2 separate regions of the Homo sapiens genome follow, and region 2 is linked to region 1. Evidence: fine-mapped expression QTL. A gene starts in region 1. The other region holds a variant in brackets. All regions are shown on one strand. Distances are between the middles of the regions. Region 1 holds the start of TMEM238L (transmembrane protein 238 like). Region 2 overlaps TMEM220-AS1 (TMEM220 antisense RNA 1).

The links.
Region 2: its variant is fine-mapped to the expression of TMEM238L in nasal epithelium (TOPMed, PIP above 0.99).

What each region holds. Positions count from the first base shown.
Region 1 is chr17:10,796,461-10,811,798 of GRCh38, reverse strand. It overlaps TMEM238L (transmembrane protein 238 like), which reads left to right and starts at 7,700. Exons shown (of 2, transcript NM_001388428.1): 1 at 7,700-8,193. The coding sequence starts at 7,836. The coding sequence ends at 8,075. It overlaps TMEM220-AS1 (TMEM220 antisense RNA 1), which reads right to left. Exons shown (of 4, transcript NR_073458.1): 2 at 9,291-9,400; 3 at 5,557-5,636. RefSeq lists enhancers at 3,546-4,045, 4,046-4,547, 7,296-8,081, 12,212-12,711, 12,712-13,213.
Region 2 is chr17:10,770,726-10,786,063 of GRCh38, reverse strand. All of the region lies in intron 1 of TMEM220-AS1 (TMEM220 antisense RNA 1), which reads right to left. Among named protein-coding and RNA genes, the nearest start is that of TMEM238L, 26 kb to the left of the region's middle. The variant T/C (reference allele first, on the strand shown) is at 7,958.

The DNA.
Region 1 (15,338 bases):
GGCAGAAGTTGCAGTGAACCGAGATAGCACCAGTGCACTCCAGCCTGGGAAACAGAGCGAGAGTCCGCCTCAAAAAAAAAAAAATTAAACATAGAATTACCATATGATCCAGCAATTCTACTTCTGGGTATATACACTCATACCAAAAGGAATCAAAAGCTCGGATTCAAATGGATATTTTTATACCCATGGTTATAGCAGCATCATTCACAATAGCCAAGAGGTGGAAGCAAACCTAGTGTCCACCCACAGGTGAATGGATACATAAAATGTGGTAAATACACGCAATGGAGCGTTATTTAGCCTTAAAAGGTAGAACATTCTGACACATGCTACAACACGGATGAACCTTGAGGACTCTATGCTAAGAAAAAGAAGCCAGTTACCAAAGGACAAGTATAGTATGATTTCAATTACATGAGGTAGGTAGAGTAGTCAAACTCACAGAGACAGAAAGCAGAATGGTGGTTGCAGGGGCTTATGGGAAGGCAGTCTGGGGGGTTAGTATGTAATGTGCACAGAGCTTCATTTCAGGACAATAAAAATGTTCTGGAGGTGGATGGTGGCGATAGTGGCACAATGCGAATGCACTTAATGCCACTGAACTGTACACTTAAAAATGGTTAAGGCAGCAAATTGTTAGTCACATACATTTTCTACAATGAAAATAAATAATTTTTAATTAAAAACTTAATTAAAGGCCAGGCACAGTGGCTCATGCCTTAATCTCAGCACTTTAGGAGGCCGAGGCAGGTGACTCAACTGAAGTCGGGTGTTTGAGACCAGCCTGACCCATATGGTGAAATCCTATCTCTACTAAAAATACAAAAATTAGCCAGGTGTGGTGGCGTGTGCCTGTAATCCCAGCTACTTGGGAGGCTGAGGCAGGAGAATCTCTTGAACCCAAGAGGCGGAGGTTGCAGTGAGCCAAGATCGTGCTACTGCACTCCAGCCTGGCCTGGGCAGTAGAGTGAGACTCCGTCTCAAAAAAAAAAATTAATTAAATGGGAATAAGAAAGAAACTAACTTGATTATCTGAGGATTTGGGAAACAACTGACACAAGGGTGGGGAAGAGGAAAGGGAGAAGAGTTGGTATTTGTATTTAATGCCCATGAGACGACAAGACCAGGTTCTAATTGCAGCTCTGTTACCTACTTGCTGGCTGAACCTAGGCAACTCTCTTAACGGCTTTCAACTCTGGAAGAGGAACAGGGCTGCAGGGAGGACAAGGAGATGCTGGATGTAGATCGATGTCCATTGTACATAAAGTGCAACACAAATGCATGGAAATACTATTATTATCTGCTGAAAGGGGGCAAGGTTACCAACCTGCGGAGAAGGAAGGTGATGAGCAGCAAGGAGGTGGTAATGGGAGGATGCTTTTGAGATGTGGACAGGAGTCATGAAGGTTTAGGTCAGCCCAGTAGGGAATAAGATAGGAAAACCAGAAAAGAGGGCTAGAGTTTCCTGAGCTGGAGGGAGGGTCCTCGAGCATGGATTACAGAGGTCCAGGCAGCGCACTTTGGGGAATTCTTATAAGACCCTGTGGGTAGCCTAACAGAGGAGGAATGAAGAGCTCTGAAAATTGTCAGGGGTCACTAAGATAAGAGCGAATACATTTCTGAAAATACTGACCCTAAGTCCCACACTGAGAAAAAGGAGGAGTAAATGAAGATTGATTGGGGAGCATTGATCAGGGTCAACATTTTTCCAGATTCTGGCACTATATCCCTGGCAGTATGGGAAGGGATTTCAGTTGGCAGACAGGCTCACATTAAAAGGCATAGCCATTTCAATTTTCATTCAATCTTTCCTATGACTTCCAGGACAAAGCCACTGGTTGGTGCTATTATGTTTTATGTACCTCTCTAAACTTTGTGAGTCTTGGGTCTTTATTTGAGAAAGAGAGCAATTTCAGTAGGCAACAATGTCTAGTTTGGAAATCAGCAAATCTGACCTGCTGCCTGGTTTTGTAAATAAAGGTGTTTTGTTTTGTTTGGTTTGGTTTGGTTTGGTTGGAGATGGAGTCTCCGTCTGTCATCCAGGCTGTAGTGCAGTGGTGCGATCTCGGCTTATTGCAACCTCCACCTCCCTGGTTCAAGCGATTCTCCTGCCTCAGCCTCTTGAATAGCTGGGACTACAGGCATGGGCAACCACACCCAGTTATTTTTTGTATTTTTAGTAGACAAGGTTTCACCATGTTGGACAGGCTGGTTTCAAACTCCTGACCTCAGGTGATCTGCCCACCTCAGCCTCCCAAAGTGCTGGGATTACAGCAAAGTTTTATTGGAATGCAGCCACACTCATTCATTTACATATCATCTCTGGCTCTTTCACCATGCAGTAGTCTGTTTTCATACTGCTATAAAGACATACCCAAGCCTGGGTAATTTATAAAGGAAAGAGGTTTAATTGACTCACAGCTCAGCATGGCTGGGGAGGCCTCAGGAAACTTACAATCATGGTGGAAGGGAAAGGGGAAGCAAGGCACCTTCTTCACAAGGTGGCAGGAAGGAGAAGTGCCCAGCAAAGGGGGATGAGCCCCTTAGATCTCGTGAGAACTCACTATTACAAGAACAGCATGGGGGAAACTACCCCAATGATCCAATTACCTCTACCTGGTCTCTCCCTTGACAGTTGGGGATAATGAGAATTATGTGGATTATAATTTGAAATGAGACTTGGGTCGGGACACAAAGCCAAACCATATCACACTACAATGGCAGTGTTGAATGGCTGTAACGGAGACCAACAAGATTGCCTGCAAAGCCCGAAACATTTACTATCTGGCCCAATACAGAAAGAGTTTGAGTACCCCTGGTCTGATTTAATTACAATTGTTTTGTGTTCAGTATATTTATTCCCAAGTACTTTCTGTCTAAGTCACACCAGTTTTTCACTGATGGTGACAATAACTGATTGCAGTTTTAACAAATCCATTTTTTTTTTTTGAGACGGAGTCTTGCTCTGTCGCCCAAGCTGGAGTGCAGTGGCACAATCTCAGCTCACTGCAAGCTCCGCATCCCAGGTTCACGCCATTCTCCTGCCTCAGCCCCCCGAGTAGCTGGGACTACAGGCACCCGCCACTATGCCCGGCTAATTTTTTTTGTATTTTTTTAGTAGAGACAACAAATCCATTTTTAAAAATTAACAAAATAATATAGCATTAACAAACGAATGTAATATTCTATAAGTAAGAGACACAAATTGCAGGGAATGGTACACTTAAACAATAAGTGAAGCTTGATAAACACTGGATTACGAGATTAGGGGGCGTTGAGGGATTTGAGGATGGTGAAGATAAAGAGCCACTTTGGTAGAGGTAAGGGATCTGAAAGATAAAATGGATCTGGGAAGAGGAGTTCATGAAAATAAAGGATTTGTACCCATCGAAGAATGGTGAGACAGCACTGCACGTCCTAATAGATTTAGTGAGGGTAGTATGGGGAGGCCAAGGGCCAGGCAGCTGCTACCAAGTGAAGCCCAGGTTGGTAAAGGGGAGAAAATGATGGTGCCAGAGAGTCATGGATGGATGCCTTCCAACCTGGGTTTTTCCTTACATAAGCATCATGGCAGAAATGTAAAGATTCCCAGCGGCAACCACAACAATAACACTTGTCCCTGTTTACAGAGTGCGGGTTCTAAACACTTCACACCCATGCACTCACTTACGCCTCACAGTAATCCTATGAGGAAATTGAGGCACAGAGAGGGTAAGTGACTTGCTCAAGGTCACACAGCAAGTGAGTGGCACAGCTAGGCACTCTACTAAGCTCTGCACCATGAAAAGGTAGGCAGACCTAATGAACAGGCCGGCATGGCTAGACCCACCCAACATCTGAGCCTGCCACCCAGGATGTGACTGGGCCTTTGTCATTCATGGAGTCAGGTCTGGGATCTGTGACGCTGGGTCAGCTGAGCACCTAGCTAGTCCATCCTGGTGTCAGTTGCCTGCCCTTTAGGATCCAGGTCATGGAGAGGCTGTCATCTGGTGACATCACGGATGACAAATCATGATGACTTTGCCAAGGGAGTGACAACGTCTCAGTTGCCGAGAAGAGGCGGAGCTGTGAGACAGCAGCAGAAAGACAAACCTCTCAGAGGCACAGGGGTGGCTGCAGCCCCAACAGCCCAGCAAAATCGCAGAAGGAGAGAGGCAGAGGGGCCCTCAGTGACCAAATTGGAAGTTGCAGGCCAGGGGCTAGGCGTCCACCTGTGCCTTCCACACCATGTTATGGTTCAGAAAGCAAATGTCCAGAGGAGTGTAACAGATGCCTACTGTCTTATACTTCCCTGTTTTTGCGATTTTTTTCTGAAATTATTAAATTGCAATATAATCTGAAATTATACCATTCATGTGTTAATTATTGCCTCCACTCTTAGCATCTTATGTCTGTGATGTTAGGTCAAGATCAAGATCATACTTGATCTTGATCCTGCTGCCTGACCCATAGTAGGTGCTAATAATATTGGTTCAATTTAAATCCCACTTCAGCTCAAACTTCAAAATGTGTAGGGGTCACTTAGGGTTACCCACTCGTGGAGAATGAGCACCTTGGCTTGGTGAATAGAGGTGACAGCAGCCAGAACCCAAGCAGGGTGAGAAGACCCCACCTTCTCAGCCTCTCGCCCAGGGACACAGACATAGCCAACAGCACCTCCGTGTCCCCAGGAGAGACAGGGAGGGGTTGAAGCAGTGCCTGCTGGCATGGAGGGCCACCTTCAATGGGGTGCTGACTTTGCAATTATGTTTTTTCTGAAAACTTGGCTTGAGAGTCTAAATTTTCTATCTATACTACAGCTAGAAATCAAAGGATGTCCAAATAAACAAACAAACCTTTTAGGTATTGCTATGGGCTGTGGTTGAATTCTGTCCTCCCAATTCATATGCTGAAATCCTAACCCCCAGTAACTCAGAATGGGACTTTATTTCGAAGTAGGATCTTTGCAGATCTAATTAGTTAGGATGAGTTCATACTGGAGCAGGATGGTGCTTCTTATAACAGGGGAGATGTGGACACAGACATGCGCACATGCGCACAGGGAGAACGCCATGTGAAGATAAAGGCGGAGATCAAAGTGGTGCATCTACAAGGCAAGGAACGTCACAGATGGCCAGCAAACCACCCAGAGCTAGGGCTGAGGCCTGGACCCCATTCTCCCTCACAGCCCTCAAGGGAACCAACCCTGGAGACACCTTGATCTCAAGACTTCCAGGATCCAGAACTGGGAGATGATACATTTCTATTGTTCAAGCCACCCTGGCTGTGGTGCTTTGTTACAGCAGCCCTGGCAAAGCATGCAGCTATTTCCAGCTGTGGATCCAGCCTTGGCAAGTGAGGAAGTCACAAAGGATCTCCGTGAGAAGAAGAGGGTGGTGGTGTTCTTCTTGCTAACGGGGGTGCAGCAAACTGCTCTCTGATCACCTGCCCCTCGTCCACGCCTGCCTCCGCCCAGGCAGTTTCTGGTTCCCACACTTGGAGCCACCCTCCTTACTCACTTTCATCTCCCTTCTTTTCTTTCTAGCCTGCCCCCCTCCAGGGCTCCAGACTCACCTGGCTTTGCATCAAACGTCCCAGTAGGTCTCTCCCAGCTGTGCAAATACCGAGGCTGCCTCAACACACAGGAGTGGTAACTTTGGGAAACAAGAGTAAGAAAGATACACAGGGGCAGAGGTGGAGGGGCACTTCACAGCCTGGCCAGTCACCTGGAGTGGGGCCATGGTTAGCGATTTGCCAGAATGGCCAGGTATTATGAGAGAGAACGCAGACCGCGGAACTGAGAGTATGATGTGGCCCAGTTAGATGGGACTACATTGACCAACCATGCCAGTTGACCCAGAAACAAAGGATTTTCCAGCATGCAGAAATTTTAGTGCTAAATTGTTGTCCATGGTGGACTAGAGCCACACACACAGGACTCTGCAAAGGGACCTGGGAACCTGTATATGGCTAGACCAGGACTCATTAGCCCAGCCCTGTGCAGACACAGCAGCAGTGCTTGTCCTGGCACTGGGAAGAGGCCATTGCTGTCCATCAATAGTTTTTCCCAAGAGACTCTCTCCTACAGGGGGAACAAAAAATTGAAAGAGTCATGGCTTCCCCAGCAATGTGAGGTGTTTCTGTAGGTACCTGGCCCCTTCCGAGGACCTAGTGGGACAGGAGGCAAGTACTGAGATGGAGATTGGCCTCAGCTACTTCCCACTTTGAGGTGTCCAGAGTGTTCACCTGGCTTGGCTCAAGTCTCGTGGCGTTTCAGATCCTAAGAGCTATGGTTTAGGTCATCCCCTGCCACCTTCCCCAAAATATTTTCTGAAAGTTTCTTTCTCATCCTGGCTTATTTTACACATAGAAAAATGAAGGCCGGGCATAGTGGCTCATGCCTGTAATCCCAGCACTTTGGGAGGCGGAGGCGGGCGGATCACCTGAGGTCAGAGTTCGAGACCAGCCTGGCCAAGTAGAGTTTGAAACCCCATCTCTAATACAAATACAAAAATTAGCCAGGCATGGTCATGGGCACCTGTAATCCCAGCTATTCCAGAGGCTGAGGTGGGAAAATTGCTTGAACTTGGGAGGCAGAAGTTGCAGTGAGCCAAGATCGCACCATTGCACTCCAGCCGGGGCAACAAGAATGAAACTCTGTCTCAAAAAAAAAAGGAAATCAGATCCACCTACTTATTCTCACCCTCTGGGGAAGGCAAAAGTGAGAGTGGAAATTATTTTCTTCATTTATCTGGGTAAACTGAGGCCCAGAAAGGTTTGGTGCCCTGTTCTAGCCTCCCTGTGAATCAGGGACAGAGGGGTGGCTGTCTGCAGCCCTGCCAAGGACTGCCGCTGCATTTTCCTCATTTGATGTTCACCCCCACACCCGCCGTGAGCAGCCACGGGGATAAGATCGCTCCCATCAATGTAGAAGGGATGCAGGCAGTGTCTGGAAGGGCTTACAGGGTCATCTATTATGAGAAAGAAAATGAACATAAAATGAGTTCATGTAGAAAACACAGAGGCAACAGGCCCCGGAAACATCCCTTGACTTTTGCCTGGGAATTGCCCTTTGGTCCACACAGAATCCACTGCAGGAAGAGGCCAGAAGTTTCTTCTCACCCTGTTGTCTTCTCTCTGTCCCCTCTGTCTTTTCCATCTCTACCCCTTTCCCGCCCTTATCCTTACTGTCCATTATCCTAGGGAACTCAGATCCTTCCGTCTGCAGAGTGAGGGCTCTACAAGAAGGCAAAACTTCTCTTGCTAACATGGACCAATTCTTACAGCAACGCTTCAAAATCGATTGATCTTACAAACTCTTGTCTATGTCCTTTACATAAAACCTTTTCCCCCAAGGAAGAGAGTAGGGCAGGGAGGTGAAGAGGAATGGAAACTCCACCACTCCACCCCGCTATACTAGATGAAGCAGCTGTGTCTCAGAAACAGGGCACTCAGGCTCTCTGGCTTCCAGGGATTAGAGAACAAGGCACAGATCAGCCCCTCCCCCAGAATCACAGGACCGCCAACTTGGCAGATGCATCCAAGGGCACCCTGACTCCTCTGCCACATGGATTGTAGGTCCCAGCGATGAGCAGCCCAATTAACAGTGATGTCAGACTGTTTGGGTCCAGATCATTCCTGAGCCATGAAACAGTTAAGAAATATCCTGCCCCACTGGCTGCCGTGCTCATAAAGGTAGACCCACGTGTACTTCCCTGTGGCTCCAAGAAGCGCCAGCTCGCTCATTTGCTCACACCCAGCAGGCAGAGAAGGCAGCAGCAGGCAGGACCGCCACCCTCCCATGCAAATCACCCCCGGGAGTGCAGCTGGGCTCCTCCCGCTCCTCCTGGGCAATGCTCCTGGGGAGTCTGTGGGGAAGATGCCATCCAGGGCGCTGTGCGCTCTTCCTCATCCTCGCCCTCCTGCTGGACGCGGTCGGCCTGGTCCTTTTGCTGCTGGGGATCTTGGCCCCCCTGAGTTCCTGGGACTTCTTCATCTACACAGGTGCCCTGATCCTGGCTCTCAGCCTACTGCTCTGGATCATCTGGTATTCCCTCAACATTGAGGTGTCTCCTGAAAAACTGGACCTGTAATTTGGCCATGGGAAGAGGAGAAGAGACGCAGGTGCTGTATGCAGACATGTCTGTGAACCTGGGGCTCTTGGGCAGCAACACGTTGCAGCTTCCACCTAGCAAGCCACGCCGGGACCAGGTGAGTGCACACAAGACCTACCTGGCAGGGTGGCCAGAGAGGCTTGGACAAGCAGGGGCAAGACCAGGCCTCCTGAGGCTGCATAAGCAAATAGCCAGACACTGCACCCTGACTGGGGATCCTGTGGCCCTGGCCTCAGGTCCTGCTGGGGTGGCCAGCCAAGAGGACGTGGGGCAGGTGTTTTCTCCTCCGGGCCCTTTTCCTCGCAGAGGCTGGAAAGAGAGTCTCAACAGCCCCTTCCACCCCTGATATACCACGAATGATCCTGGCTTCTGGGCACAATGGGAAGTTATCCCTTTACCTCGGAACTTGGGGACAAAAAGACCCCATCTGCATTCTCTGTTGGGAAGAATCTCTGCTGGGGAGAAAAGTCTTTAGCACAGGAGAGGACGGAAAGTTCCCCAATGACTCTTGTGCCCTTGCATACATGAAGGGGTGTGAACTGGGCCACGGTAAAAGCAAACAGAGCAGAACCACCCAGAACGGCCCCTCTCGTTCACTTCCTCCCTGCACCTGCCCAGATGGGATACAAGAAGCGGGGTAGGGACTACTCGCCTCCATGCCCACTCAGTGCACACACCTCCTCTCTCTGCAGTATTCCCACCCCACCCTCACTCACACTCACACGCAGCCAACACATGTGCCCAGCCAGTCTCCAAGGCCCAGAAGTCAAGACAGTTTGGCTTCATGGATTTCATCCGCTGAGTTGCATGTCACAGCTCAGTCTATCGCGTGCAACCAAAGAGGCAGAGAGTTGTAAGATTTTTTCACATCAAGACAGAGTCCCAGAGATAGAGTGGTCTGGTCCTTACAACCCTGAATTAGAGATGGACAGCTGTCTCCAGGGGACTGAAGTCAGAGCCACGGTCCATTGGGCAGCCATACCCTCCTCCCCAGGTGGGCCCAACCTGCACGCAGGTGTATCCAGGCACTCCCGTTTCTTACTCCCTTACCAGAAGTAAGAGCAAAGGTCGTTGCTGAGTTGAAAGAAGGAAATAATAATTGTGTCTTTTGTGGGGGATTACACCTGACTCTCAGAACTCAGAGAAAAGAGAAGCAAAATGAAGAGGTCTCAGTAGAGTAAGGTAAGCCCATACCTAGGAAATGATGTAGAAACAGATGAGAAGTCAGTCCCACTCTGATCTTCAGCACTTGTTAGCTGGGTGTTTTTGGCCAGGTTGCACACTCTGAGCCTCAGGATTCTCATCTGTAAGATGAAGAGAATATTTCTGGCCCTTATTGCTGCAAGGATCGAAAAGAGATAAGGCAGGGAAAGGCTGTACAATTGATGTGGTTCTTACACCAGATGTCAAGCATACAAAACACATAATCTGGGATGAGTTAACTGACCCAAAGTCCAAATGTGAAGTACCTTGGTGTCTCTCAAATTGGTAGTGATGGGGGTCAACTCACACTTTGCATCAGGAAACTTCAGAGCAAAAAGGGTCCCTGATTTGTGTGCTGGTATGTTGGAATGTGTCAGGCACTGTGCAAGACACTGGGGATAAGAAATGAGACACATGGACCAGGCACAGTGACTCATGCCTGTAATCCCAGCACTTTGGGAGGCCGAGGCGGGCAGATCACTTGAGGTCAGGAGTTCAAGACCAGCCTTGGCAACATGGTGAAACCCCATCTCCACCAAAAATACAAAAAATTAGCCACGCATGGTGATGCACACCTGTAATCCCAGCTATTCAGGAGGTTGAGGCAGAAGGATTGCTGGAGCCCAGGAGGCACAGGCTGCAGTGAGCAGAGATTGCACCACTGCATTCCAACCTGGGCGGCAGAGTGAGACCTGTCTCAATTAAAAAAAAAAAAAGACACATGACGTGGGGGCTCTACTCTCAGGGAGTTTACCATCAGGTGAGAAAGACAGACACTCACCAAAGATTCACACTTACAAAAGTACAATAACAAAGTCAGGTCTGCTCTAGGAAGGAGAGGAGCATCCTGCCACAAGAATATTCAATAGAGAAACTGACTCAGAAGATGGAGTCAGGGAAAGCTTCCTGGAGGAGGTGATATTATGCTGAATGCCAAAGGAAGAGTGGGAGGTGAATGGAAAGTCTTTCAGGGAGAGGCAATGGCTTGGGCAAAGGTCCTGGGATAACAGGAAATAAAAGACGACAGGGAGATTGAAGGGCAGAGAGCAAATGTCGGTGAGGGTTAGGGCTCTGTGGTAGACAGAGGCCAGATCTGGCAGGGCCTCGAGGGCCCTCTGAAGGATTTTGGTCATTACTTGAAGAACAATAAGAATCCACTGAGGGCTGGGTGCTGTGGCTCACACCTGTAATCCCAGCACTTTGGGAGGCCGAGGTGGGCAGATCACGAGGTCAGGAGATCGAGACCACAGTGAAACCCTGTCTCTACTAAAAATACAAAAAATTAGCCGGGCGCAGTGGCAGGCGCCTGTAATCCCAGCTACTTGGGAGGCTGAGGCAGGAGAATGGCGTGAACCCGGGAGGCGGAGCTTGCAGTGAGCCGAGATCGCACCACTGCACTCCAGCCTGGGTGACAGAGCGAGACTCCGTCTCAAAAAAAAAAAAAAACAGTAAAAAGGAATCCATTGAAGAGATATAAGCAGAGGCAGGGGCTTAACATAATTGGACCTGTGTTTCCAAGAGACCACCCCGGCCACAGTATAGGTTATTATGGTTATGATTATTACCGGCTGAAACCCATTTGGGGAGCCAAGACAAGTACCCAAACAACACAGAGTCCCCAGTGTGAGGCTCCGTGCCCTGAACAGCCTTCCCTCATTGAACAGAAGTTCAATAGCCCGGCGTTGAAGAGCATGGGCCATACCTAGACTCTGGCTTGAATCCAGTTTTATTCCTTTCTAGCAACGTGACTTGGGGCAAGTTACTTCACCTCTCCGTGCCCCATTACTCCAAATATGTAAAATGGAGATGGTGCTAATAATAGCCACTACGTCATAAAGATGTTGCCCAGATTAGGTGGATTAATATTTGTTCAGCACTATGCAAGTGATGACTAAATAAAGCGTCAGTCACGATGCAGGTAGCCAGCACATTACAGAGGGTGAGGCCCTGACGCATTACGATCAGTTCTAATGGCAATGTACAACATTAGGATTTTTCAGTAGATATGAGACTGAATGCTGCTCCAGAATGCTAGAGTTTTGTCCTGGTTCAAAGAAACTTTAGAAGTTTTAATATGTTCTTTATTGTATTCTTTACTGCATCTCCATCCCCTGACACATTTCAGGGATGGCCCAGAGTGACAGATTCGTGTGTGCTGAGTCCTGCTGTTCAGGACGTTGCTCACTTATGGGGCTGCCCAACCCTCCTCCACCCCATGGCCTTGGGCGAATCATTTTACTTCCCTTTAGAGTTAAAGATGTGGTTTCCGGCCAGGCCTGGTGGCTCACGCCTGTAATCCCAGCACTTTGGGAGGCTGAGGCGGGCGGATCACGAGGTCAGGAGATCGAAACCATCCTGGCTAACACGGTGAAACCCTGTCTCTACTAAAAATACACAAAAATTAGCCGGGCATGGTGGCGGGTGCCTGTAGTCCCAGCTACTTGGGAGGCTGAGGCAGGAGAATGGCGTGGACCCGGGAGGCGGAGCTTGCAGTGAGCCGAGATCACGCCACTGCACTCCAGCCTGGGCGACAGAGCCAGACTCCGTCTCAAAAAAAAAAAAAAAGATGTGGTTTCCAAGGGAGGTTTCAAACTGTGTTCTGCCAATGTCCCTGGAAGGGAATTGGGCCTGGGGTGAGGGGCAGAGTGAGGGGACAGGAGTCCAGCAGCCCTACCCACCCCGTAACACACATTTCACCCAGAACAGTGGAGCTCTCAGCAGCTTTGCACATTAAACTGGCACGTAAGACTTTACATGAACACAAGTTTCTGATGCCAAAAAATATTTGAAAAGCAGCTCGTCTCACTTCCCCTACAGCCTACGACCTTTGGCCTATATGTCAATTCCAGACACATTCACGATTTACGGGCAGATTGTAACTGGCTTTGCCAGCTCTCTCATTCTCAGAGCGGGGTAAAAGGAAAGAATGTGGGCTCCCTGCATTCAGAGCTGATGCCCACATTCCTAGCTCAGCCTTCAGAGGCTCTGTAAGATGAGGTTGAGGCCGGGCATGATAGCTCATGCCTGTCATCCCAGCACTTTTGAAGGCCAAGGCCAGAGGATCACTTGAGGCCAGAAGTTGGAGACCAGCCTGGCCAACATAGTGAAACCCCGTCTCTACTAAAAATACAAAAAATAGCCAGGCATTGTGGCATGTGCCTGTAACCCCAGCTACTTGGGAGGCTGAGGCAGAAGAATAGCTTGAACCTGAGAGGCGGAGATTGCAGTGGGCCAAGATCGTGCCACTGCACTCCAGCCTGGGCGGCAGAGCAAGACTCCATCCCCCAAAAAATAAAAAATTAAAAAATGAGTTTGATAGGACCTGCCCCCACCCTGCCCCAGAGATGAGGAGGTCCCATGCTCGGTCAGGACAAGGCAGGGGCCTGGCTGCCCCACAAGCCTTCTGCCCACAGCCTGCGTGGTTCTCCAGAGAGAGGGCAGGGTGGCTGCTAAACCTCAAAGGCACCCCCAGGAAGTTTCAGGGCGAGTGGCTGATTTTTATAGATCAACTGTGCTCCAAGAGAGACAAGCTGCCGTTTGATTTTATCACCTGGTCACTGTATTTTCAGATTTTTTTTTTTGCTCCATTTTCCACTTCTTGGTTATTTCCTGCAGATAAAGATAAGTCCCCAAGCAAAGTCAGATGAAGACTCTTGTCCTTTTTTAATAGGGTGTCCAAGACTACACACCCAAACAATACACACACACCAACACCCCACACACGTACACACACATCCCTCTTCTACTCCACGTGTTCATGCACACACAAACACGCCCCCCACACACTCACACCTACCACACACATCCAGAAACACACACTCACAGAAACAAACACACCCACCACACACTCACACCTACCAAACACACACCCAGAAACACACACTCACAGAAACAAACACACCCACTCTCACACCAACCAAAGCCAAAAGGCTAACAGCCTTGAGCCTTGGAAAATGAAACTTGTTCCTCCACTTCGACTTTTTCCAACAGGCAGCCTCTCCCCTCTGCCCACAGAGGAGGCCAGTGGAGCTGCCAAGTCAGCTCAAAGGTGAGCCTGGTAAAAAGCCCTCCTCTCCTGCTCAATGAATCTGTGCCCCATGCAGACATGGTGCCAGGGCTGTGTGGAGGAGCAAACATTTCTCTAATCTCTCCAGGGATTTTTAATCTAAGGGGAGAGATAAAGCATGTGCACGATACTTCACAAAGTTTCCAAGGGAAAATGCATTGCAGGAGATAAGCACAGTCTTGCCAGGGCTCTGAAAGCTGAGAGGAGGCACAGAACCTCCTGGCTGGGGGAAGCGTGCTGTGTGTGGTTCTGGCTGGGCTGCTAAGGAACAGGTAAGAATGTGACAAGTAGAGATGGCACAGGGACAGCAGCCGTGGGTGGTGGGTAGGGGGCAGTCCAGGCAAAAGGAAGGACTGCAGAAATGAAAGAATTAGGGTGTCTAGGAAAAGCTAAGCAGGCACATTTGCCTGGGGGTTGGAGTCTTCAGTGCCGGCTGTGCAGGACTTTGAACACCAGGTGAGGAGTCTGACACTAGGAGAGGAGGGAGGAGTCTTCAGTGGTGTTAGATACTAGAGAGCAACATGATCAAGCTTTGCCTGTAGAAGAGTAACTGAGCATCGTGTGCAGAATGGATGAGAGAGAAGCAGCAGAGAGACAGCAAGGCCATTCAGCAAGCTCAGGTGGCAGGTAATAAAAGGGTTCAAGCTGAAATGATGGCCACGGAGGGGAGGGGAGAAGAGCAGAGACTGCATGAGTGGAGAACGGCCTGTCCTGTTCTACAGCAGATCGGGGGTGGCATTGTCAAAGCCTTCAGAAAGCGCCCCTGGGGCATGGAATGAGGGAGGTCAGAAAAAGGCATGAGTTTGTTTAAAATGATTCATTTTCTTTTGAACATGCAGAGTTTGATATGCAAATCGTATACGAGCAGAACTACCTAATTGGCATTGAATGTGCAGATTTTAAACTCAGAAGAAAGATCAGATGTGGAGGGAGAGGTTAGGGGTTAGAGACATGTGGATGAGATTACAGAGGGTGAGGATGTAGAGAGAAAAGGGATTGGGAGAGTGAGGAAGGAAGGAAGGAAGGAAGGGAGGGAGGGAGGGAGGGAGGGAAGGAGGGAGGGTGAGAGGGAAGGAAAGGGGGGAGGAAGAAAGGAGAAAAGAACACTAAGATTCACTGAACCAGGCCCTAGGGTTGCACATTATCCCATTTCACCCTATCAACAAGGCCATGAGGAAAGTAGTATTATCATCATAATCATTATTATTCCTCTCTATTACAGATAACGATAATAAGGTGTATGGAGGTTAAGTAACTTGCCCAGCATAATGGAACTAGGCAGTGATCGAGCCAGATTGTAAAACCAGGTATATCTGACCCTGTGGTTTATGCTCTTTCCATAAGACCAGGGGTAGGCAACTACAACCTATGGGCCAAATCTGGCCCACCTCCTGTTCTTGTAGATAGTGTTTTATTGGAACACAGACTGGCTCGTTCACTCTCATATTATCTATGGCTGTTTCATGTTATAGTGGCAGGGTCGAGCAATGGTAACAGAGACTATGTGGCCTGCAGAGCCTATGACATTTACTACCTGGCCCTTTACAGAAAACATTTGCCAGCCCCTGGCCTAGTCACGTATGTTTCCTATAGGAGCCAAGTCAGAACCTTGATCCATGCCTGCATGTGGGGAACGGGAAAAGGAAAGCAGATGGAAGAGCCCAAATGGAAGTTCCCAGTAATAATAAGGAAGAGACGTTATGCCAATGGCAAAGAGGACAAAGAAGGACAATTATCAAGAGTGAGGGGAATTGACCATCAAACACTTCAAAGCCATCAAAAAAAGGCTGAAGCCTAAGGAAAGGCAGTTAGGCAGACCCAGCAATGTGCCTTTCTCAGTAAATGGTGGAGACAGAAATCAGATGATGCTACTTATCGGGTGGCTGAAGATGGGTGAGGAGTGAGTGCAGATTCATCTTCAAAGTATTTGGTGATGAGATTAAGAGGGTAGGGCAGTCACCTGCTGGCATAAC
Region 2 (15,338 bases), 26 kb after region 1:
TAAATCATCAACATAGGATCTTATAACTGTACTTCTGGGCACCGGCATGGTCTCCATCCATGACTGCAGAAGCCACCACCAGGCCGCTGAAATTGGCTCCAGAGGCCGGGCGCGGTGGCTCACGCCTGTAATCCCAGCACTGGGAGGCCGAGGCAGGTGGATCACCCGAGGTCAGGATTTCGAGATCGGCCTGACCAACATGGAGAAACCCCGTCTCTAGTAAAAATACAAAATTAGCCAGGCATGGTGGCCCATGCCTGTAATCCCAGCTACTTGGGAGGCTGAGGCAGGAAAATTGCTTGAACCCAGGAGGTGGAGGTTGCAGTGAGCCGAGATCATGCCATTGCACTCCAGCCTGGGCAACAAGAGCAAAACTCTGTCTCAACAAAAAAAAAAAAAAAAAAGGAAAAAAAAAAAAAGAAATTGGCTCCAGAGATGAAATCATTTATCTTCGCTATTTCTTAGAGTTCAAAAAAGCCAATTCTCAGGTGTCAATTATGTAGGTGAACTTAGACCAGCTGCCATAGCGAGGGAACACCTACAAATCACTCCTCCCACTGTAGCACAAGTGATTCAAACTGGGAAGAGCCCTGATTAGTTTGAAACTTATTAATCAATGTAGTCCTACATTCCAGGCATAAGGCTAGTATTTGTACTGTCCTTCATTCCAAATTCTTCTTGGTCTACCTTACATGGGGAAAGTCTTTGTGCTTTATAAGCATAACTTTTGAAATGGGCTTGGTAGACCCTGTATTAAAGTTAAAAAAAAAATACCATTTTCCCCATAAGCCAAAGAGGCTTAAAAAGAGAACTCAACTCAGAGAAGATCTAGACATGGAATTAAAGGGTAAAAGCATGAAAGGGTAATTAAAGAGGTGGATTGTTTGAAACGGGCAGTTAATTGCTTCAAACCTGAACCAAACAGGCAAGTTGAGTGGCTCAGGGTTGTGTGACTGTAACTTACCTTATCTATAAATAGATCCTACTCTGTATTATAAATAGCTTTACACTTGAAGAGCTTCTGAATGTGCCATACTAGAGCAGATGGGACTGGGGGCCAAACTGACGGACGTGGCAAAGGAACCAGATCACAAATCCAGAGTCCTACCCTCCCTCCATACATACACATACTTCCAATTTCCTAAATATTGAAGGCAGAGTAAGAGACATGCAAGAGACATCAGTGGAACTCCAGCAACAGGGGATTTAATTTGGAGTGTAGTGAGGACTTAGCATAACATAAAACCCCGAAGTTTGGAGGAAATCTCCACAAAGTTAAATGACAATAGCTGACTTGTCCCTCTTGCAAAGTGTAATGCAGTTTCCCCTCATTAATGCAAACACACACACACACACACACACACACACACACACACACCCCTGTGGTTCCTCTCCCCTTGCTGGTAACCCTCCACCTTGATATAACCATCAACTGAGGAAAGAGAATGTTTCGTACTAGAAGTCAGACCCGGGTTTCTGTTTCAGCTCTGCAACTTGCTGGCCAAATGACCTTGTCACTATACCTTCCTCCAAGGCTCCAATTTCATCTGTAAAATGGGCTCTTATAACTATCAAGAGATACAATACATACAATAATAACTAACATCTACTGAGGGCTTACCATGTGCCAAAATAATTTATTCTTTATCGTAACCTTACTTGTCACCAATTGTAATCTCAGACAAATTTCTTAACTTCTCTGGGTTATCTTTTTATGATAGATAAGATATTACAGTAGTGACAAGTAGAGATGGAACTGGAAACAATCAATCTGACTCCAGAGCACTTTGAAATCTATAAAGAAGACTACAGTTGTAGGCCAAAGATGGAAGGATGTCTGAAGTCAGCACTTCTGAAATTGTGGCCAGAGTACCTCACTGAAATGCAGATTATTTTCTCCCTCTCCAGACACCATATTGCTGTGTGGGAGCATCTGCATTTTAATAAGCCTCATCAAGCGATTCTTATATAGAGCAACTCCAGAACTTCTGAATTACGATTAGACCCTAAAGAGTCACTTCTGGCTAAGATGGAATAACAAAGACTGGATTTATGCTCCTGCCTGAAATAACAAAAAATAAATTAACAAACAAGACATATAAAATGATAGTTTACAAAAGTGTGGAGGCTGGGCATGGTGGCTCACGCCTGTAACCCCAGCACTTTGGGAGGCTGAGGTGGGCAGATCACCTGAGGTTGGGAGTTCGAGACCAGCTTGACAAACGTGGAGAAACCCCGTCTCTACTAAAAATACAAAATTAGCCTGGCATGGTGGCGCATGCCTGTAATCCCAGCTACTTGGGAGGCTGAGGCAGGAGAATCACTTGAACCTAGGAGGTGGAGATTGCAGTGAGGCGCGATCGCGCCATTGCACTCCAGCCTGGGCAACAAGAGTGAAACTCTGTCTCAAAAAAAAAAAAAAAGTGTGGACATCAGGCAATGAAATACAGTGATAAATGAAAGATGGGAAAAAAGAGATAAGCCCAACCGTTGCCCCAGCTTATGGCATTAGAGAGTTTCTAGACCACGGTATAAGGAAGGGGAACATAAATGGAGGCTGGAAGACTCCCCGAGTTAGAAGGAAGTGATAGTCCAGAGAGAAGAAATCAGCTACGGTCTGAAGGGCAAAATATCAGATAGGAGGAGAGAGCTGCACAGACAGAAATCTGCAGAGAATTCCAAAAGATTGTTCAGCAGAGTACTGATTGGCATGTGTGTGTGAGGAAACTACCCAAGGCTGGGAAAAGAACCATGGAAACGACTGGAGGGGAGAGTGGAAGGTGTTCAGCAGGAGTAGGAAGGATGCCTGGTCCAACAAAACACTATAAAAACCCACGTGATACATGCATTAAGTGAAGTACTCAGTACTTAGTAGTGCAGAATAATTACCTCTACACTAAATGCTACTCTAGTATAGTAAGTCTAAAAACAACTCCCCACCCAAAGGATTAAACTATTTCCAAGTAATTTAACTGTGTCCCAGGACAAAGCTCCAAGATGTTTACAGAAACACAAAAATATCTAGCATCACCAAACAAGTTAAAATTCACAATGTCTGGCAACCAAAAAAAGATTACCAAGCATGCAAAGAAGCAGGAAAATGTGACCCATAATGAGAAGGAAAATCAACCACAAGAACCTGAAGCAAACTATACTCAGGTACATCATAATGAAATTGTTCAAAACAAATAAAGGGAGAAACTTGAAAGCACCAGAGAAAGACAGAAAGACATGCTACAGAGGAACACAGATAAGAATGGCAATGTATTTCTCATCAAAAACAATGTAAAAAAGAAGACAATGTAGCAATATCTTTAAAGTACTGGGGAAAAAAATGACAACCAAAATTTCTTTACCCAGCAAATATATTTTTCAAAACCAAAGGCAAAATAAAGATTTCTCAGATATTCAAAAACTAGAACAATTCATCACTAGCAGCCCCATGCTACAGAAAATAATAAAGGAATTTCCTCTGGCAGAAGTAAAATTACAGATGGAGATACAGATCTACACAAAGTAATGAAGAATAGCCAAAGGGTAACTTCTTGGATAAATACATAAGACTTTTCCTTATTATTTAAATCTCTTTAAAAGATAAGTAGATGTTTAAACAAAAATAAGAATAGTATATTGTGGTACTTATAATATATGCATAAACCCTTCTATATCTACATCTATATCTATATATACATCCTAAATAAGTGAAAACTAAATAACACACTTTTATGAATTCATGAGTCAAAGAAGAAATAAATAAGAAATTAGAGAAATTGGAAAGTATTTTGAATTAAATAAAAATGATACACAGCTTATCAAAAGTTGTAGGATGCAGCTAAAGCAATACTTAGAGGGAATTTATAGTTTGAAATGCTTATTTAGAAAATAACTTCTTGAAGAAACAACCTAGAATCTCATCTTTTAAAAAATCAGCAAAATTACTGCAAAAGAAACCCAAATGAAACAGAAGAATGGAAATCAGATCAGAGCAAAAACCAATAAATAGTCGATTAAAAAAAATAGAAGAAATCAGTGAAACCCAAAGCTGGTTCTTTGATAAGTAAAATTTGTAAACCACTAGCCAAAGTGATTAGAAAAATAAATGAGACACAAATTACCAATATTAAAAATGAGAAAAAAATAAAAAATTAAAAAATTAAAATGAGAAAGGTGACATACTGCAGATTCTGCAAATAGTAAAGGATACTAAATGAATATTATGAATAATTTCATGCCAATAAATTAGATGAATTAAATGAAATAAACAAATTATCTGGAAAATACAAACTATAAATGCTTATTCAGGAAGAAATAGGTAACTATCGATAGCAACTATCGATAATAGTAACTATTGATAGTTATCTATTGAAAATAGTTAACTATTGATAATAGATACCAGAATAGCTCTCTATATATTAAACAAATTGAATTTGCAGTTTAAAGTCTTCTGATAAAGAAAAGTTCTTTACACTGAAAACTATAAAACATTGCTGAGAGAAGTTAAATAAATGGATAAATAAATAAATAAATAAATAAATGAAGAGACATATGATATTCATGTGTCAGAAGGTTTAATACTTTTGAGATTTAATGCTCTCCAAATTGATATATAGATTCAAACAATTCCAATAAAAATCTCAGCAGGGTTTTTTAAAGAAATTGACATGTTCATTCTAAAATTCACATGGAAATACAAAAAGGTAGTACTACCTGATTTCATGACTCATTATAAAGCTGTATTAAATAGGATCATATGATATTGGCATTAAGAAAGAAAATTAGGTTAATTCAACAGAATAACAGTCCAACAATAGATCCACACATATTTGGAAAACTGATTTTTTACAAAGATGCAAAGGTAATTCAGTCAAAAAAGACAGTCCTTTCAATAATTGATATTGAAATAAGTATATATCTACATTTTTAAAAACGAACTTTGATTTATACCTAACACCAAATACAAAAATTAACTCAAAAAGAATCAAACACCTAAATGTAAAACCAAAAATATGAAACTTCTAAAAGAATAGCAGAAAATCTTTGTGAACTGGGATTAGGCAAGAAGTGGTTGAATGACATCCAAAGCATAATCCACAAGAGAAAAAAAATGATGAATTTGACTTCATCAAAATTAAAATTTCATTTAAAGTGTCTCTGCAAAAGTCTCTGTTAAGAGACTCAGGAGTTTGAGCCCAGCGTGGGCAACATGGTAAAAACCCATCTCTACAAAAAAATACACAAATTAGCCGGGCCTGGTTGCATGCATCTGTAGTCTCAGCTGCTTGGGTGGATGAGGTGGGAGAAGGATCACTTGAGCCCAGGAAGTCTAGGCTTCAGTGGATTATAATCATGCCACTGCACTTGAGCTTGGGCAGCAGAGCAAGACCCTGTCTCAAAAAAACAACAAAAAAAGAATGAAAGAGGAGATATCACTACAGATCCTGCAGACCTGAAAAAGGTAGTAAGATAATATGAAATACTATGAAGAACTCTATGGACATCAATTTGATAATTTAGAGGAAATGAACTAACTCCTTAAAAGCCAAAAGTGACCACAACTCATCCAAGTTTAAATAGATGATGTGAATCACCTTTTTTTTTTTTTAATTAAATTTGTGGCTAAAAACTGCTTTAAAAGGAAATCCTGGGTCAGCTGCGGTGGCTCACGCCTGTAATCCCAGCACTTTGGGAGGCTGAGATGGGTGGATTACAAGATCAAGAGATCGAGGCCACCCTAGCCAACATGGTGAAACCCTGTTTCTACTAAAAATACAAAAAATTAGCCAGATGTAGTGGTGGGCACCTGTAATCCCAGCTATTCAGGAGGCTGAAGCAGGAGAATCGCTTGAACCCGGGAGGCAAAGGTTGCAGTGAGCCCAGATTGCGCCATTGCACTCCAGCCTGGGCAACAAGAGCAAAACTCCGTCTCAAAAAATAAAAGTAAAAAAATAAAGAAAGAACTCTCAACATTCATTAATAAGAAAACAATGACAACAACAACAAAATAATTTTAAAATGGGCAAAAGAGTTGAACAAACCTTTTAACAAAATACACCATATGGAAGGTGAATATGTTTAACATCATTCACCATTAGAGAAATGCAAATAAAAGCCACTCCGAGATATCACTACATGCTTGTTAGAATAACTACAATAGAAAATACTAGCAGTATGTGTGATCCAAGGGGTAACCAGAGCTCTCATTCAATGCTGGTGGAAACAGAAAATGGTACAGCCACTCTGGAAACCAGTTTGACAACTTCTTATAAAGTTAAACAGATATATTCCTTACCAGATGACCCAGGAATACCAGTCCTGCACATGTACTCCAGACAAATGAAAAGTTATGTCCACACAAAAACACCAACGTTTATAGCAGTTCTGCTCACAATTGCCCAAAACTGAAAATTCAATTGTGAATCAATAAACACACTGTGGTACATCCATACCATAAAATACTACTCAGCAAGGAAAATGAATGAGTTCTTGATACTTGAAGTAACTTGGATGAATCTCAAAGGCACTAAGATGAGTGAAAGAAGTCAGTTTCATACCGTATGATTACAGAACATGTTTGAAAAGACAAATCTATAATGATGTAGAACCTCTCAGTGCTTGCTGGGGCTTAGGGTTGGGGTGGTGATATGATCACAAAGGAATAGCAGGGGAGAGGTTTTTGGGGTGATGGAATTCTCTGCATGCCGATTATAGTGGTGTTTAAACATATCTATGCATGGATTACAAGTCATAGAACTATACATTCTCTGAAAGAATGTCAACTTTATTAGATGTTAATTTTTAAAATAAAATAAATTAAAAACTCAAGTTGTTTAGATTTTGTATTCCCTGAACTCTGCAAAAGGGTCTCTACATGTGGGCCACAGCAAAACGTCTTTGAAATATGCTTTGTCTCCCATCTATTTACACCGTCTGCTTGTAAACCTGTCTCACACTTCATTTTCAAATCCCTCTATCTGGTGCTAAGGGGAATTAGGGGACTAGGAGCCTCCCACAATCTCATCCCTTCATTCATTCTTCAATATTGACAATAGGCATGCCCAATGTCAAATGCAGTTTCAAGTTCCTCACTGTCAACTTTTCCAGCCTCCCACACTTTCCATATGGAGATCTGGAGCAGGCTACTGTCCCCAGCCTCCCCTTCTCTCCTGTATCTTCAGTCTGCACAAGTTCAAAAGAATCCTTCTGGGGAAGCAGGACCTACAGTGGGTGTTGGGGGACAGTGGGCTAAGCCAGCATCCTCTTCAGACAGCATAGGGAGAGCAGGATTTAGAAATCCACCTTAATGTGGAATGCGTGCATCCAAATGAGTCCTTCTAACAGCCAAACTGAGGCTGGGCGCAGTGGCTCACGCCTGTAATCCTAGCACTTTGGAAGGCTAAGCGGGTGGATCACCTGAGATCAGGAGTTCGAGACCAGCCTGGCCAACATGGCGAAACCCTGTCTCTACTAAAAATACAAAAATTAGCTGGGCATGGTGGTGGGCGCCTATAATCCCAGCTACTTGGGAGGCTGAGGAAGGAGAATCGCTTGAACCCGGGAGGTGGAGCTTGCAGTGAGCTGACGTCGCACCACTGAACTCCAGCCTGGCGACAGAGCGAGACTCCATCTCAAAAAAAAAAAGCTCTAAGATGATTTTACCAGGCAGTCAGATTTAAGGAGCTTCCCTAGGTCAGGGGTCAGCAAAACTTTTCCATAAAAAGCTGCATATTAAACATTTTAAGCCTTGCAGGCCACATACAGTCTCTATCACTACTTCTTTTTTTTCCTTGTCCTCTCCCTCATTCTCCTCTTCTCCTCCTCCTCCCCATCTTTCTTCGCCTTGTTCTCCTTTTCTCCTTCTCCTTCTTCCTCTTTCACAATCTTTTTAAAAATGTTAAAATCTATTGTTATCTCATGGGCAGTACAAAAGCAGGCATAGTTTGCCGACCTCACCCTCAGT[T/C]AACAATTCTCTGACATTAGTCTTTGGACCAGAGATGAGCAGACTTGGTGGAGAGCAGGTAAACAGGCTCTCAAAAACAAAAGCCCTGGCCGGGTGCGGTGGCTTATGCCTGTAATCCCAGCACTTTGGGAGGCCAAGGTGGGCAGATCACGAGGTCAGGAGTTTCAGATCGGCCTGGCCAACATGGTGAAACCTGTCTCTACTAAAAATACAAAAAAATTAGCTGGGCATGGTGACATGGGCCTGTAGTCCTAGCTACTCGGGAGGCTGAGGCAGGAGAATCGCTTGAACCTGGGAGGTGGAGGTTGTGCTGAGCTGAAATCACACCACTACACTCCAGCCTGGGCAACAAAGCGAGACTCCATCTAAAAAAAAAAAAACGCCCTGATTTGTAACATTTGCTGATATCGTGGTGTAAATACTCCCACCGTGCTCAATTTCAAACTACCAATGTGTTGTTATTGGACACAGAGTTGGCAGAAAATGCTCAGAAACGGCTGTCACCAGCCAGTGCCAGCTGCCTCCTGCACATCACTGTAATGAAATCACCTGGGAAGCTGATTAACAATACACCCCTGGAAATTCTGGTGCTGCCAAGTAGGGGAAATACTGTCCTTGGTTGCATGAGGAAAAAATAAATTGATAGAATCATTCTCCAAATGCTTGTACAAGGCACTGCGCTAAACTTTGGGGATCCAAAGGTGTATAACATACGTCGCCAACCTCAAGGAGGGCGTAGTCTAAAGGAGGAGACTTCACAAACAAACAGGCATCCACAGGATTAAAGGAGACTGTGACAAATAGGCTCAGGCACTATGGCAGCCAGAAGGAGCGGCACTTACCTTGAGCTTGCAGTCAGGGAAAGATTTGTTTAGGGAAATGACACGACTTAGATATAAGAAAAAAAAAAAGATTGTGTGACCAACCATCCATGCTAGAGCATTCTCTCTTATTATTATTATTATTATTATTATTTTGAGATGGAGTTTCACTCTTGTTGCTCAGGCTGGAGTGCAATGGTGCGGTCTTGGCTCACTGCAATCTCCACCTCCCAGGTTCAAGCGACTCTCCTGCCTCAGCCTCCCAAGTAGCTGGGATTACAGGCACCCACCACCATGCCAGGCTAATTTTCATATTTTTAGTGGAGACGGGGTTTCGCCATGTTGGCCAGGCTGGTCTCGAACTCCTGACCTCAGGTGATCCGCCCACCTTGGCTTCCCAGAGTGCTGGGATTACAGGTGTGAGCCACCATGCCCGGTGAGCATTTTCTAAAAATCCCACCTGGGGGTCATCTGACTCTCTTTTATGCAATGTACCTTTATTTGATACATTCTTGGCAAGGGCCTAGACATAAAATAAAAAGTTAACTTGTATAAAATTGATAAAGCCCTTTTTTTTTTCTGTCCAAGAAAGAAGTGTAAAGATAAAAACTGACACTGAGACTTTCTAATTCCGGTATCATGGCATTCTTCCTCTTTTTTTTTTTTTTTTTTTTGAGACAGAGTCTTACTGTGTCATTCAGGCTGGAGTGCAGTGGCATGATCTCGGCTCACTGCTATCATTGCATTCTTTATCTACTACAGCTAGAAAAAAAACTAAGCAAAAATAACAAGATCTCCCTGCCTGGCTCAGGTCACCTGCATCACAAAACCTTGGCTATTTCCCACAAACCTAGACTCTTTTTTAACAAAATCATCTTTTCCTTGAATTTTGCTATGCTGATATCTGAAGATTTGCTGTGACCTTTGGGATTATGAGGATGATATGAGAAATATGTTTTTCACCATGAAAAGGTTAATGTAAACTTTATGAGTTGGTCATTTTGCAGGTTTTTTTTTCTTCAAATGCTCGTTGTGTTTTGTATTTGGCAAGCCAGCCCTTCTGAAAAGGCTGACTCCTTGATGCTCGTTAAAGATAAAAGTTTTCTTTAATTTCCTAAATGCCACCATCTATGAGTCTTTGAGATAACTCCAAAGGTTACTTTTTATTGCCTGGTTAGGTATTAACCAGTTTTACACTGAATTTTGCAGTCTTATTTCAGCATTCTTTTTCCTTTTGCTGTATAAATCCCAGTTCCTCATATCTTCAATGAACTTGTTTTTTTTTTTTTTTCCTGCTGATTCTCTCACGTATCAGTCAGCCTCAGCTGTGTAACAAAGTATTCCAAAACTGAGTGGCTTAAAACAAGAAGCCTTTCTTTACTGATGATTTTGTGTGCTGGGAAGTTCTTCTGGTTGGGGTAGTTAATGTCTGCTGGTCTGCTTACACATCTATAATTAACTGGCAGGACACTTGGAAACTCCGTGGTCTAAAATGCCCTCACCTGTATAAGGGACAACGAGTCCCTGTGTCTCTCATCATCTGGCAGGCAGGCCTGTGGTTTTTATCTGCTACTTGCTGGGTTCCAAGAACAAGAGCAAGAGTAAGCAACAACATGCAAGTACTTTTTGAGTGTCGGCCCATATTTTATTTGTCATGTCCCACGGGTCAAGGCAAGTCATATGGGCAAGCAGGGTGGGAAGTTGCAGACACAGGGAGGTGTGGATAAACTGAGGACCATTACTGTAACAGCTCACCACACCTCACTCATGAGTTGAATAAAAGTCTGGCGTGTGCTAACAAAATACTTTGAGAATTATGCATTTACAGGATGAAGAGATGACCAAAAGGAACCCTATAAAAAGAAAGGAGTGGGGAAAATGAAGGGACAGTGAAGGGAAGGGTGTTCCCAGCAGCAGGGATTGCAAGTGCAAAGTCCTAGAAATGGGGTGGGCCACACCTGCTCCAGAAAGCTGCTCACTATGGCTGGAATGAAAAGAAAAGCAAATACACCTTGATTTAAAACTTGGGTTTTTTTTTTTTGATACAGAGTTTCACTCTTGTCACCCAGCCTAGAGTACAGTGGCGCAATCTCGGCTCACTGCAACCTCCACCTCTTGTGTTCAAGAGATTCTGCTGACTCAGCCTCCCGAGTAGCTGGGATTACAGGCACCCGCCACCACACCCAGCTAATTTTTTTGTATTTTTTTAGTAGAAACAGGGTTTCACCATGTTGGCCAGGCTGGTCTCGAACTCCTGACCTCAGATGATCCACCTGCCTCGCCCTCCCAAAGTGCTGGGATTACAGGCATGAGCCACCGCACCCAGCCAAAACTTGGGTTTTATTCAGATTTGCTTTTATTTAAACACAAAGAAGTAGACCATTAGTGGCCAGACCATTGCAATATGAAACTTAAAAGGTTGTGAGATTAAGACCTGCCTGCCTTAAAAAAGGAAGATCTGGTCTTTGGTGATTTCAGGTCAGGTCTAAGGGGCCATGATGGTCTACAATGAAAGAACAAAGCCAGGTGTGATAGTGCGTGCCTGTATTCTCAGCTACTCGGGAGGCTGAAGTGGGAGAAGTTCTTGAGCCCAGGAGTTCGAGGTTGCAGTGAACCGTGATTGTGCCACTGCATTCCAGCCTGGGTGACAGAGCGAGACCCTGTCTCAAGAAAAAGAAAGAGGCCAGGCACGGTGGTTCACGCCTGTAATCCCAGCACTTTGGGAGGCCAAGGCTGGCGGATCACGAGGTCAGGAGATCGAGACCATCCTGGCTAACAGGGTGAAACTCCGTCTCTACTAAAAATACAAAAAAAAAAAAAAAAATAGCCAGGCACGGTGGCATGTGCCTGTAGTCCCAGCTACTCAGGAGGCTGAAGCAGGAGAATCACTTGAACCTGGGAGGCAGAGGTTGCCATGAGCTGATATTGTGCCACTGCACTCCAGTCTGGGCAACAGAGCAAGACTCTGTCTCAAAAAAAAAAAAAAAAGAGAGACAGAGAAAGAAAAAAAGAGAAAGAAAGAAGGAGAGAAGTAGAAAGACTTGCCCCTGGAGAAAGGAAGAATTTCTCAGAAATGGAAAAGGAGACTCCAGAAAGAAGGAAAGAGAGAAAGGCAGGTGTTATGAGAATGGATTGACAGGGAGCTGGGTCAAGATTCCATAGAATTTGCTCAAGAAGGGGAAGGGTATGCAGCTGGGAAGAAGTGAGGGTAGAGGGAAAGGGTGAAGAGGACCTGACAAAAGATGGCAGTCAAGGATCTTGTTCCAGAGTCCAGAAACTACATGGGGTCCTGTCTACACTGGGTCACCACACAAGCTCTTCCTCCCACTGGGGTCCATGAGGACTTTGCTTTGACAGCATCTGGCATTTAGCAATTTGCCCAGGGTCTTCCTTCCTTGGTTTCTGAGCACCTCACCTGGAAAACCCACTCTCCATATTCCCATAAAGCTACAAGAAAGGATAGCTGGGGACCTGGTCTGCTTGCGTGACCGTAGGGTGAAAGAAGTCCCCTCCTTCTAATCCTTTTCTCTAAGGCCTGAAGGAGTGAAGGTAAGATGGTATTGAGTCAGCTAAGGTACCCCAAGCTCCCTGCTTTTAGAAGATTTTATACGAGAACATGAACCAGCTCAAACATCCAGTCTTGTCCCCAGAGGCATTCATTGTTCATCATTTCATGTGCATTGTTCCAAAAAGTTTGTATTTATAGCAACTGACCCATAACATTGGCAACTGTGTATTTCAGATGTGTTTTCAAATACTTAGAAAAAGAGAAGAAAAAAACAAACAAACAAACAAATGACCTAGACTCAGAAGAAAACTGGGTAGCAGTCCCCGGGTTGGTTCTATGAAAATATTGAGTAATTTTATGCAAAATAACTTGTACCCAGGGGTGAGTTTCAAAGGCAGGGGAATGAATGATTTGGCTTAGTTGTCAAAGTCACGCTTCCCTAATTGCAGAAAGAAAAAGTGTCAGTCAGCTTTTACAATTACCCTCCTTGACATCTACATCCGGCTTTCCTGATCACAGAAAGGAAAGAAAGCTAAAGTGGCTTGCAAAGAATGGGCCCCTGGGAGCAGAAAATGAGATTCTCTCCTTAAAAGCAAGAGGGAGGGAGGAGCAGAGAAGGCCAGATTGACAGAAAGAGCAGCTCAAGAGCTAATTAAGTCTGCAGAGGAGCCAGATAGGCCTCCTCCCTGGTTCATTGCCAGCAACCAAAGCTGTTTGATGTTTCTCTGAAATCTGAGTGGGCAAGCCCAGCTTCAGGCCCAAGAAGGATTTTTACTACAAAGGCCAGAAGAATCAAGAGAGGTGGAACATAGGAAGGGAACTTGGGCAGAATGAAAACCACCATCTGACTGCACAGAGATAGTGTGAGAAAGGCATTTACACTCTCACCTTAATATCTAAATGGTTATTTTAGTAAATTATTTTACTTTTATTTTTTTAAATACCATGTCTCACTCTGCTGCCCAAGCTGGAATGCAGTGGCATGATCATAGCTCACTGCAGCTTCAAACTCCAGGACTCAAGGATCCTCCTTGCATACAGCTGGGGACAAACAAGAGCGAGCCACTGAGCCCTGCCAAACTATTTTAACCAAAGGGAACAGGAAATTGTCGTCAAATGAGATCTTTGCCATCCATGCCATGAATCGGGCACCCCCTAGTGTCAGCTTCTGGAATTACAAGCATAGGCGTTCTTGGCTTTGCCTGGTCTTGGGAAAACTAAATCAGAGTAGCAGGATGTGCTCCTCGGTTTTTCTTTCACTACGATCTTGCTGTAATTGTACGCCCATCTCTGGCCCCATTTTTTGGGTCTCTACAAGGGGCTAACACAAATAATGCTAATAATATTTTCTTGCGTTCTTGTATCCTTTCAGAATGCACAAAGCCCTTTCACACATTTGACCTTACAACCATGCAGGAAGCACATCCATGTGGATAATGCAATTATCTGCATCCTACCAAAGAAAAAAAAATTAAGGGACCAGAAAGACAAAGTGGCCTGTTCAAGGTCAAAGGCAACTTAATGATGGAGCCAGTAACAAAACCTCCAGGTCTCAAGTTTAGTGTGGTTCCCCCTAATCCTCACTAAAGGGTTTCAGAACACACCTTACATTGGTTGCAATTAGAGTTACCTGTCAAGCTTCAGAAACATACCAGTGCCCTGGTCCCACATCTGGAGACTCTGATTTAACTGGTGTGCTGTGATACCCACACACGAGTATTTTATAAAGCTCTCCAGATGGGACTAATGTGCAGCCAGGGTTGAAAACCACTGTTAGAGAAATAAAACAGAAGGACAGAAAGCAATTATGCTTACATCTCAGAGAGCTAAATTGCCACTAAAACACCAGGCACACCAGAGATCATCTCGACTGCCATGGACAAAGAACCCAGAACTGCCCCTCAGATCCCCATTTATTCAACTCACAGAGACACGAAGATAAGCACACAAAGACACACATGGACACACAAACACACAGATACACAGAGACACACACAGAAACACACATAGCCATAGACACACACAGCCGACAACTTCATAATATACGAGGAACACAGCCTGCTTTCCTGGACTAGGACTCTCCCTCCTATAATCCACACCCAAACCTAAACGGGAGTGCCTCAGGTTCCTACTCTTCCACTCCAGGACTAAAGATCTCCTTCGTGTTTGTTGAACACTATTCATCACACTTGTCAGATATCAGAATTCAGGAAAATCTCCCAAACCTAAGTCTATTCCCTGCTCTCTCTGATCAGAGGAATGAAACACCCAGAATGATCTCAGGTCAACCAGCACATGTCACTCAGGAAAATGCTCCCCCTGAGTTGTCCACACAGAAAACTGGAGCAACTGGATTTACAGAACTTCAAGTTTCACTTGTGCAAGTCACACAACATTTTCTTTGGCAAAGACTGGGTTAAATTCAAGTCTACAGTCAGACACCTGCCTTCCTCCCCAGACCTGTCTGGCCAGACCCCTGGCCTAGCTGGAGCAGGCTCTGGCCATACCTGCATTGAAGCCAGTGATGCTGGGGCTAAGGAAGGTAGCCGTATGTCCAAATTCAGGCTTACCTCCACACTCGAGGCTAGGATGGCACCAGCATCAAGGCTGCAGGTCCCCTGGGCATGAATGTCAGACATCCATGCATCCATTCAATAAATACTCATCAAGCACTCACTATGTGCCAGACACTGGGTGCATAGTAGCAGACCAAAGACACAATTATGGGAGTTCCATTCTGGTTGAATGGAAAGACAGAAAACAAGATAAATAACAGTACACACACACACACACACATACACACACTCCAGCTAGTGATTAATGCTAAGAAAAAAAGCAAGAAAAAGCAAGATGAAGAGTTGGAATTTAAGGCCGAGCAGCAGAGGAGGTGTTGTCTGAGTAAAGGTGGTTAGGAGGCGGTATGCCAACATCTGGGCAAAGAATGGGGACAGGAGATGCAAAGATCCTGAGGTGGCAGCTGGAGGCCAGGGAGGGCTTCACCCCACACCACTCTCTTAGAGGGCCTCACCCATACCCCAGCTCTGAGTGGCCA